Linked DNA regions of Homo sapiens. The protein of the gene in region 2 interacts with the protein of the main gene of each other region in a pairwise test. Each region holds a gene or a part of one and is shown on either strand. Other genes may lie near its edges.

What was found.
Region 1: the proteins of NEGR1 (region 2) and SYNGAP1 interact in binary tests that used the Homo sapiens proteins (3 or more experiments, as listed by UniProt).
Region 3: the proteins of NEGR1 (region 2) and NPC2 interact in binary tests that used the Homo sapiens proteins (3 or more experiments, as listed by UniProt).

The regions. Positions count from the first base shown.
Region 1 is NC_000006.12:33,444,065-33,447,719, forward strand, and holds part of SYNGAP1 (ras/Rap GTPase-activating protein SynGAP), read left to right. Parts: intron 1-379; coding exon 380-553; intron 554-2,510; coding exon 2,511-2,722; exon of another isoform or gene 2,723-2,734; intron 2,735-3,655. UniProt on the Homo sapiens protein: Major constituent of the PSD essential for postsynaptic signaling. Inhibitory regulator of the Ras-cAMP pathway.
Region 2 is NC_000001.11:71,590,009-71,593,663, forward strand, and holds part of NEGR1 (neuronal growth regulator 1 precursor), read right to left. Parts: intron 2,961-3,655; coding exon 2,809-2,960; intron 1-2,808. UniProt on the Homo sapiens protein: May be involved in cell-adhesion. May function as a trans-neural growth-promoting factor in regenerative axon sprouting in the mammalian brain.
Region 3 is NC_000014.9:74,483,259-74,486,913, reverse strand, and holds part of NPC2 (NPC intracellular cholesterol transporter 2 isoform 2 precursor), read left to right. Parts: intron 1-477; coding exon 478-585; intron 586-2,326; coding exon 2,327-2,499; intron 2,500-3,655. UniProt on the Homo sapiens protein: Intracellular cholesterol transporter which acts in concert with NPC1 and plays an important role in the egress of cholesterol from the lysosomal compartment.

The DNA.
Region 1 (3,655 bases), on a different chromosome or scaffold from region 2:
TTGCCTCCTTTTGGCCATTAAACAAATGTGTATAGAGGGCCTGCTATGTGCCATGTGCTATGCCAGGCACTAAGGATACGGCACTGAACCCTCTTAGCACTCTCATTCCAGAGGGGATTAATCCATAAGTAGAATGGGGGTGACTGGAATAGGGCCAGCTGGGGGCTTGGAGGCATGAAGATCAGATCCTGAATCAGAACAACAGGAGAAATTCTCTGGCATTCAACTCACATCTCTGGCATTCAGAGGTGATAAAGGCTACAGCAGGGCAATAGGACTGGGACTGTCGTCTCCTTTGGCTGTGCTGTTGCCCTCTAAATGTACCCTGCTTTTTCCCACCTTTTCTTTCTCTGTTCGCCCTCACTGTGCCTTGTCCCAGCATTCTCAGACACCATCCACATTGAACCCCACAATGCCAGCCTCTGAGCGGACAGTGGCCTGGGTCTCCAACATGCCTCACCTGTCGGCTGACATCGAGAGTGCCCACATCGAGCGGGAAGAGTACAAGCTCAAGGAGTACTCAAAATCGATGGATGAGAGCCGGCTGGATAGGGTACGATGGGCTCTACCAGCTCCAAGCCCCAGTGTTTCCTTTTACCCACAGGGGAGATCTCTAGTCACTTCCAAGGGAAACCTCCAGGGTCAGTTATGGTGGTAAGAAAAGGCAAAGACCTGATCACCTCTTGAGAAGCCTTCCGTCCATCTGGGGAGACCAGATACACACAGTTGTTAAAAGTCACTTTCAACTCTATTTTGTAGGTTATATATATCATAGACTATCTGGGGATCATCTATTTTAGGCTTACCTCCATGTTCTTCCCCAGGAGGAACATAAGCCCTGGCTCCTGTGACTGCTTAGGAAAGGAAATGTTACTTTACTGGCAGTAGGAGCTAATAAATTGGATGGGGATGGAGGGGGTTGCAGCTATATTACAAGTGATGTCTGGCCTACCCAGTCACTGTCCCATGGGCATAAGTGACAGTCAGTGGGCAGGGAATGCATGTGGTAAAGTAGTATGTATCAGTCATGTGTGAAAAGACCATCCAGACCCTCACTTGGTGGAGGCTGAGGGCAAAGGGCACCAAGAGCTCTGGGGCTAACACAGATAACTTAGCAGAAAGTTACTTGAGGAAGCTGTTGTTCCTAGGGCCTGAGGAAGAGGGCGGCTGCAGGATTAGGTCATATATAAAGAACATATGATCCTAACACGGGGAAGTGGTCTTTGAGCATAGGAAATGTTGGGACTGACTCAGATGGGCTTGACCAGCAAATTTAATGAGAATTAAACCCTAATATTAGCCCCAAGGCAGCCACCGTAGGAAGTTAATTCACATCTCTCCTCTGCATGTAGAAGGGTTGGTGATATATGTATGTATCCTCTTCAGAGAATGAGGAAATAGTCTTTTGAATCATTTTTTTTTCTGTGCTTCAGATGAGGAAACCTTGTTGAGAAAGGCTGTAGACTAGCACTATCCAATATAACTTTCTGCAGTGATGAAATGTTCTGTAATCTGTAGTGTTCACATGTGTCTAGTTGTGATTCAGGAACTGAATTTTTAGATCTATTTAATTTTAATTTTGTAATTTTTTTGAGACAGGGTCTTGCTCTGTCACCCAGGCTGGAGTGCAGTGGTGCAAACATGGCTCGAGGCAACCTCCGCCTCCTGGGCTCAAGACATCCTCCCACCTCAGCCCCCTGAGTAGCTAGGACTACAGGGTCGTGCTACCATGCCTGGCTAGTTTTTTTTCTTTTCTTTTTTTTTTTTTTTTTTTTTTGTAGAGACGGGGTTTTGCCATGTTGCCCAGGCTGGTCTAGAACTTGTGAGCTCAAGTGATCTACCTGCCTCAGCCTTCCAAAGTGCTGGGATTACAGGTGTTGAGCCACTGTGCCTGGCCTAAATTTTAAATAGCTACATGTGGGCTGGTGGCTACCATATTAGACAGCACAGCTGTAGACTCTAGAGCCAATAGGGCAGATAAAATGACTCTTCTGAGCTCTTCCAGCTCTGGAATTCCTAGATTCTCAGCCTAGAATTCACTTGTAGACCTCCTATCCTTGGCACCTTGACAGAGCCAAGGAGAGGGTCACATGGAGGACAGCACCTGCCTTTCCCCCGTCAATTGCCTTTTCTTCCTATGTCTCCAGCATGTGTTCTGGGGCCTGGCTTAGGGCTGAAGAGTCACCCTATTTTTAATTTCTGAGCACAGTTACTCAAGGTGTGTTTGTGAGTGTAGGTTTCTGTGTGGGTCTTCATGAGGGGCCATACATAGACCTCAGGGTGTGGGAGTCTGTGACCTTGCTCCATTTTGAGGGAACCTCAGCACCATGGCAGGGTCTTCTCAAAAGCAGGTGTGTGGATATGATCCACAGGCAGGGAAGGGGTTGGGGAAGGCAGCTGGATGTCCCTCAACATGCAGTGGCTGTGCTTGGCAGACAGGGATGGAGGCTGGGTGGTGGGCTTGGGGTGGGGCGCCCCTCATAGTGCGGGGTCGTGTGCCCGGCGGGCAGGTGAAGGAGTACGAGGAGGAGATTCACTCACTGAAAGAGCGGCTGCACATGTCCAACCGGAAGCTGGAAGAGTATGAGCGGAGGCTGCTGTCCCAGGAAGAACAAACCAGCAAAATCCTGATGCAGTATCAGGCCCGACTGGAGCAGAGTGAGAAGAGGCTAAGGCAGCAGCAGGCAGAGAAGGATTCCCAGATCAAGAGCATCATTGGCAGGTGAGGGGCGGCCTGGGGAGGGGGTTGTGAGGGAGAGCCTGAGGCTGGAGAGAGCAAGTGGGTGAGCTACTCCGCTGACTCCCATCCCCAAACTCAGGAGCCCACCAGGAGAGCCCACCACTCTCCTCCCCAGGAAGCCACCCACTCACTCATCACCAGATGGAGAGAAACCCCAACCTGCTTAGTGCATTAAATATCTCTTTACCAAACCCTGACCTCTCTTCTGATAGAGTAGCTTCGGAAGCCCTTGGAAAATGTACCTGTTCCTGTCCAACCATCACTGCATTTGCATTTACCCTAGGCCAGAGCTCCCCACTAGTTATTCTCAACTTAACCTGTGATGTTCACTCCAAACCTAAGCAGGGCTCCCTAGCCAGAGTAGGCCCTGCCCTTCCTGGGTGGACCCTCCCTCTCTAGCCTTGGAAAGGTGTTCTGTTAGAAAGGGTCTTTTAGCCTGTGTATGTTTTCAGCTGCTCCAGCAAGTCCTGGGCTCCAAAGAGGGTATCCTCAGCAAAGAGGTCAATTATCTTCAGAGTGGTGGGGTCGGGGTGGGGGGGACCCTGGGCGCACTCCAACCAGAGCCACCTCCATTTTGATCCATTCTAAATGTATTTTATGTAAGATTTAATTAGAAGAAAAGGGCTTCTTGAAATATTTTTTGAAAACCACTGCTCTAATTGATATCCTTTATGATAAATCACCTCGAGGATCTTCACAGTGAGGTGACATGGGGGATGCAGAAGCCAGGTCCTCAGCCATGGAAGGTCTGGGGAAGGGGCACTGCTGTCCTGATTGGGACGATGGAGGCCTGGAGGTGTCTGGATGGTAGAAGTCTTTGAGGCACAGAAAGCTGCCTTAGCAGGGAGGTGTAAGGGTTCCTGGGAGGAAGGTGGAGAGCATGATCCTGAGGAACAGGGAGTCTTGCATCACGGC
Region 2 (3,655 bases):
TTGTTTCATACTGCCATGTCTTTACATGAGCGGTTCAACACTAGAGTGCTTGCCTCTCTCTTTCTTCCATCACCATTCCCACACCCAGGCTCATCCTAATCACCTTTACCTCAAGGGGCATCTCCTTTATATTTTTCCCTGAGTCCTTGAGACTGACTGAGTTGATCATTCTCTTTTTTGTGTCACTATACTTTGTGCACATGATTGTTGTTGAATGAGCTCCTGCAAAGTTCTGCCCCAGAAAGTGAGATAGTCATTGCTAAGATGATGTTTTGAGTTGTACCTTAGATATAATTCAGATAGTGGTATTGGCTACTCTAGATAAAAGTTCTTTCATGACCCTTGAGACTATAGTAAGAGCACCTTCTCTGCCCCATTATGGTACCACTGACCTTATTGCATTATCGTTGCTTGCTTGACTGTTTCTCACTTCTCACTCATCTGAGAACTCCTTCAGGATGGGGTTCCAGTCCTACTCACCCTTTTCTTTCCAACATCTAGTGCCGTGCTTTGCCGGGTGTAGGCATTGTAGATAAAAGCTTAGAATCTGAAGCCAGATTGTCAGGGTTTAAGGTTTTGCTTTGTCACTAACCATTTGGCTTCAGCCACATTTATATTCTCTAAGTTTCCTTTTCTAGAAGAGGAGAATTACAGAATCTAGCTCTTTGGATTTTGTGAGAATTAAATGAACAAGTTTATATAAAAAATAAGAATAGGGTCTGTTTCAGAGTAAGCTAACAATGTGCTATTTGTAATTACAGTCATATTGCCTTGTATCTGTAGAGGTTACAAGTACAAATTCTACAGCTAAAACTCATTCACTCATTTATTTATTCATTAATCCATCCATTCATTTACTCAATGTTTAATTCATTTATTCACTAAAGATTTACTCCTTGCTTATTAAATAGCAGGTGCTGTGCTTGGTGATATGGGAAATAAAATAACTAATCAGACATAGATCCTGTCTTTTTAAAGAACTTATAATTTGATGGAGAGATGGAATATATATAAAAATAACTATAAGACAAAATAAAAATGCTTAGTGCAGTAAGAGCTTCAGATGAGGTCATACCAGGGGTTCTGAATATATGAACATTTTTTCAAACTCCCAGGGCTATGTTCATAATTACAGACAAGATTTTCACATTTGCCTTTATTAACAAATTAATCAAATTGTATGTACTTAATAGCACCTCAGCATACAGCAAGTCAATGGCAGAGAGAGATGATGAGAGTCTCTTCTGAAGGCACTACGTTTAGAAGCCTTTTCAGCACTATATTATTTCCAGACATTTGTGTTAAGATTGCCAGAGTAAAACAAATGTTTACACAAGTGGCATTTGTTCCTAATTTTTCACATTCATTAATGTTTCAGTTTTGAAAATCAGAATGTAATTTAGAAATTTAAATAGCAAAACGTAATATGTTATTAAGCCTTAAATTTTTCTTTACTTTGCCGTGTTAATTCATTTATTCTTTCAAGTGCTTGAATATTTAAACCATTTAAAATATTAATAATATACCAAAGAAGTATCAATATTTACATTAAGTTGGAATTCACACTGCTTTATAATATTTTCAATGGTTTATATTATTCATAATTTCACTAAATAAATCATCCTCATGGAAGGAACTTAAGCAAGCATATTATACTATAACTATTGCATGGCAAGCAATGTTTTTCTTTCAAATCGAGTGCTAAAGGATATTAGGCTGGGATAATAAAAGATGTAATATAAACTGATATGTTTTATTTCACATCAGCATTCTTAAATTATGGTAATGTAAAGCTCATAAATCATGGAAACTTATTACAGTATATTTTTAAGTTGTAGGAACATCATATATCCCATCCCCATTTCTGCAAAACAGAAATGATATTTATGATGAACTATACAATATTTGCATTTTTCAGAGATAGCTTACTATAACAAGATCGTAAGACAAATATACATTTGTCAAGTTACCATAAAATATTAACTCTAAGAGATAAGGATAATTCAGATAACTTTGTGGCACTGAAAAGACAGTATACTCTCTCTAGTCTTCTTTGAACATTTTGAGAAACATTTGATTTCAAAATTAAGAATATTTTGTGGCTGCAACAATTTGTTGGTTACTCAGCTTCTAAACAGCAGTAAAATTAATTATAGGAGGAAACATTCATGGAGGTTTCTAGCCTTTTACCCGATCCTTGTGTTTGTGCTTCTTTATTAATTTTTAGTCCTTAGGAAGTAAGATACATTAGAAATGTAGTATTTATTTGAATAAAATCTTAAGTTTTATTTTAAAATACAATTTTGAGTAAAAATATTATCTATATGGATAAAATATTTTGTCCATGATCATTTACTTACTGTTTCATTTTATGTATGGCTTGTGAAATTCTGGCTACCCCAAGATGAATGTTTTATGAAAACCAACCAAGAGTAAATTCAAGCCATGTTAATCTATACTTCAAGAATATGCAATACATTTAAAAAACAACAAAATCTCACCAAATCTACTGACTTCAGCCAAAAGACACTTTTTCAGTTAGCCCTATTATTTATGTATTTTTTCCTTTCTCAGCTCTAACATATTTTTTTAAACACATGTCGACTTCTACAGGGATTATAAAATCCTTGGACAACTATATGATTTGGGAGCAAAGTTTCCATGTGTAAGGATTGCGTGATGTATAAGGAATGTGTCACATCAGGTTGAGTTTTAAAATGAACGTACTCCATTCTTAGGTTTTATCTCTACAGATGGATAGGGGCCCAGAGGCCCCTGGAAGCATTTTGGTACCATTGCATTACTTACGGTTAAGAGGCAGGCTCGCATTGGTTGTGCCTAGCTTGTTGGCAGCCACACAGGTATAATTGCCGAAGTGCTCCTGTGTCACGTTGGTAACAGTGAGAATGGATCTTGTGCTAAAATTTTGAATAATAATTCCTTGTTGGCCATTGAAGAGCCTAGAAGACAAAATAAGCTCTAGGTAAATATGTATTGTGAATACCAGTTTCATTTTTTTATCTTAGCTGGGGTTGTCATGGCAACCCATAGACAATTCAACTACGCTGACGTTAGCATATAACGTGATAATGGTGCAATTTACATTTCACTTACATTAGTAGATTTGGGGGAGGTGAGGTTGCATGTCAGCTGTAGATTGTTCCTGTGGGATTATTTGTGCTATATAACAAACTGAGCTTGGATAGCTACATGTCCTATTTAGGCACTGTTACATATTTTAGAAAATGAAACATACCATACCAATAATATCTCATCTATTAAAGTCAGGAAGGAGTTTAAGGGAAATAAATATAAAGATTCCACGGAAAGTACAAACTGATGGTTTCTAGGTAAGCTGGCGAGAGTATGTCTGGGTCATTTCAGACATTATTAAATAACTCCCTTGAAAGTTAACCCTACAACTGTGATAGGATAGTTCTGAGTCCAGAGTCAACACCACTTTACTCTTGTACAACCCAGACAGATAACTTCCATTAAACCTAAAAAGAGACAGTCATATAGTATTGGAGATAGCATTTAAAGTTGAGTCCCATCACTGTCACATTTTAGGAATGTGCCATGGAAAGACTTTAAAACTCTCTGGACTTCAGCATGGGATTCAGCTATACCCAAATTCAAACTAATTGTCCAACAG
Region 3 (3,655 bases), on a different chromosome or scaffold from region 2:
CTAATCTATATGCTAGAAAAAGAAAGGGAAAATAGGAATATTTTCATCCAAAGGAAGGTTGAAGCAAACGTCTTCAAGGTTTAAGTTTAAACTGTGACCCTTACCATTAAGAATGCGAGATAAGACTCTAGGAATGTTTGGAATTTCTCTGATTGAAGTTTAATTCCTTTAATATGATCATTTATGGATATGGTCTTGATATTATTTAGTTTGACAAATATTAACTTTCTCTTGATCAAAAAACCAACTAGCTTCTTTATCATCTGAATTAAAGGCTATGATTTTAGCAGCAAGATGAATCAAGATTCTGACTTCTAATTGGGCATTATTCTTAAAGATTCCATCCTGGGAAACAGTCCGAGGAGAATGAGTTGACCCTAAATGGGAGAGCAGAGCACCTTCCCATTAGGTGGTGGGCAGCCTAGCTGGCTTATTTCTCCTCCTATTCTCCTATTCCAATTCATTTTTCTTTTGCAGGTTCTGTGGATGGAGTTATAAAGGAAGTGAATGTGAGCCCATGCCCCACCCAACCCTGCCAGCTGAGCAAAGGACAGTCTTACAGCGTCAATGTCACCTTCACCAGCAGTGCGTAAAAGTGGCTCTTAACTCAAATTCATGTTACAGCATAACCTAAATATCAAGTGTTGGAATAAGCATGGGAATGGAGGGGAGGGGAATTGGCAGTCATGAATTTTATGATTTCTTTTGCACCTCATGCAAAGCTAGGGTTCACTGTGCCCTTGGACACCCTTCTCATGCAGGGTCCATGGCTCCCAGACTCCCTTTAAGCAAACAGGGAGATGTCCATGTGTTCACAGGTTAGAGAAGACAGCTTGGCTTTTCTGTCTTGACCCATATTGCATAGTAGGCTATGATGGGAATGTCAGCTCTGTTTAGCTACAGACTGCAGAGTATTAGTATGGACCCCAATTCTTTAAGCTTTGGAACTCCTCCAAAATGTTGTTTTAAGCAGTAATGCCTTTCAGCTATTAAGTCTACATCCCACCTGAAAATAAAGGTGCAACTAATACTTAACAGCCTCCTTAAGATTTAGGGAACCCACTGGGGACCCAAGAAATAGCCAAGAAATCTGAGCTTTCTTCTCCAATATTCAAGAAATATCATTGGAACTTTTTGCTTTCTTGTACCACATCACTTTGAGATTTTTAAGAATCTAGACAAATGTAAAATCTTTTATTACTAAGCAGGGCATGTTCCTTGAATCTTTTCCTCATTTTCTGTCCTGTGAAACTAGACTAGACAGTCTAATAAGAAACCTCAAAGTTCCTGTCATCTTTTGTTCATAAGCCTAAAGACAGCTCTAAGTACTAGCTCCCTGTTTCCTCTCTGGACTATACCCTGGCCTCTCTATTGTTCCAAACCAAAAAAAAAAGCCTTCTGAACAAGTCATCCCCAACCCAGACAGAAGGAAAGAAACAGAACCAATTTTCTGGGTCTCCAAAATACCCTAATAACTCATAAGTCTGATTGCCCTCATTTTTTAATACCTTTATTCCTCCTGGCCATCTTGTGATGTGGAGGGTAAAGTTTATAAAGAATTGCATGTCTTTCTAATCTTACCCAATTTCTTTTTTTTTTTTTTTTTTTTTTTTTTTTTTGTGACAGAGTCTCGCTCTGTCACCCAGGCTGGAGTGCAGTGGCGCAATCTCAGCACACTGCAACCTCCGCCTCCTGGGCTCAAGCGATTCTCCCGCCTCAGCCTCTTGAGTAGCTGAGATGACAGGCATGCGCCACCACGCCCGGCTAATTTTTGTAGTTTTAGTAGAGACAGGGTTTTTCCATGTTGGCCAGGCTGGTCTCAAACTCCTGACCTCAGATGATCCACCCGCCTCAGCCTCCCAAAGTGCTGGGATTACAGGTGGGAGCTACTGTGATCCAGCCTAATCTTACCCTGCTAAAGGGTTACCTCTTTCACTGTTGTTACAGACCATGACATTTAAGACACACAATATACTTGGACAGAAGCTGATATAAATAGCAAACAGAAAGTTTACTGCCAAAAATCAGTTGCCTTGTTAGATAAGGTTGTTTATCCAGGTATCTCTGATTCTCCTAAGAAACTGTGAAGGGCCATGAAGAGCAAGGTTAAGAGCAAAGAAAACTTCTGCTGATTGTTTTTTTTTTTTTTTTTTTTTTTGCATAATTGTGTTTGGAGTGAATGCTTGCACTGTGCTAGTACCAAGCACCACTATCAAGAGAAATAGACCCTAGGAATGCTGTTGCTTGGGATTATTTCTGAATTTTTGATTTAGAGTTTGAAAATAGGTTATTTTCTTTGCCATCTGATTCTCTTTTTTTCTCTTAGATATTCAGTCTAAAAGCAGCAAGGCCGTGGTGCATGGCATCCTGATGGGCGTCCCAGTTCCCTTTCCCATTCCTGAGCCTGATGGTTGTAAGAGTGGAATTAACTGCCCTATCCAAAAAGACAAGACCTATAGCTACCTGAATAAACTACCAGTGAAAAGCGAATATCCCTCTGTAAGTGATACCATTATTGAGGACACGGGAGGCCTTGGGACTGGATTAGAGTTCTGAGGGCAGTGGGCAAGAAGCAGAGATGGGGGTAAAGGGCCCCTTATCTCTATGATGAAGAAGAAGCCCGAGGGAAAGGAGATAGGTGCGGTGTTAGGCATCAGGAGGTAGGGCAGGTCTTTTTCTCTGTGTCTCTTCATTCTTTCACTATGACCTGATGGTTAGCCTGGGCCTAATGATGCCATTTGTTTTTTAATATACTAAAATTTAATCATACATAAGAACTGTAATTTAATCTGACAGTAAAACACAAGAAGCAATATTAGAGTTGGTTTAGTATATTGTATATTTTAGCTTTGAAAGTCGTAGAAATCAGTTACCCCAGTTTTTTTCCTATAAAAGACCCATTTTTCCAAAGCATTATGCACAATTTCAATTAGAATATAATGACAGAGGATATTCCATAATTTTTAAAATATAAAATGAGGTAATTGATTCAAAAAAGTTATCTACTGCAATATCAATATCATTACAGATATAAAGTATGATGGTTCAACTTTTTAGTGCTTGATAGGGAGGAATCATGATAAAAAGGTCAATATGAAATCATTTGATTATAGTAGCAATATCTAACATTTGAAATGCATCCATGCTCTTTTGTATAATCATATTAGAGTCAAGTATATTTTCACATCTGTTATGTCTTATTTTCCAAGAGATATACACAGAGCAGTTTTTTTTCTCCAGGGAACTTATACAAACCAATATAAGATCTAAATTCTTCACATAATGTATAAAACAGGAGAAGCCTCTTCAAATTTATTTTTTGAAGTCTGGAATGCTGGCACTTTCCAATTAGGCAATAGTTCTTCATTCCTGTAACCTAGCTCAGAGCTGCTGCTGACTATGGGCCTAGAGCAGCAGACATGATTTCTTTTTAGGCTGTTTCTTTTCCACTGGTGTTTTTCTATTTATCTGTCTGACCAGGTCATAAAATATTTCATTAACATTGACCTTTGACTTTGCAGATTATTCTAAAATGGCACAGTTCCATCACTGTCATGCTAAATTCTGGCCCTGTTCTTTGCCAACTACTCACTCATCTTCCAGGTCACATTTATTGCCAACCAAAATCATTGGAACATCTTCTGTGTCCTTAACC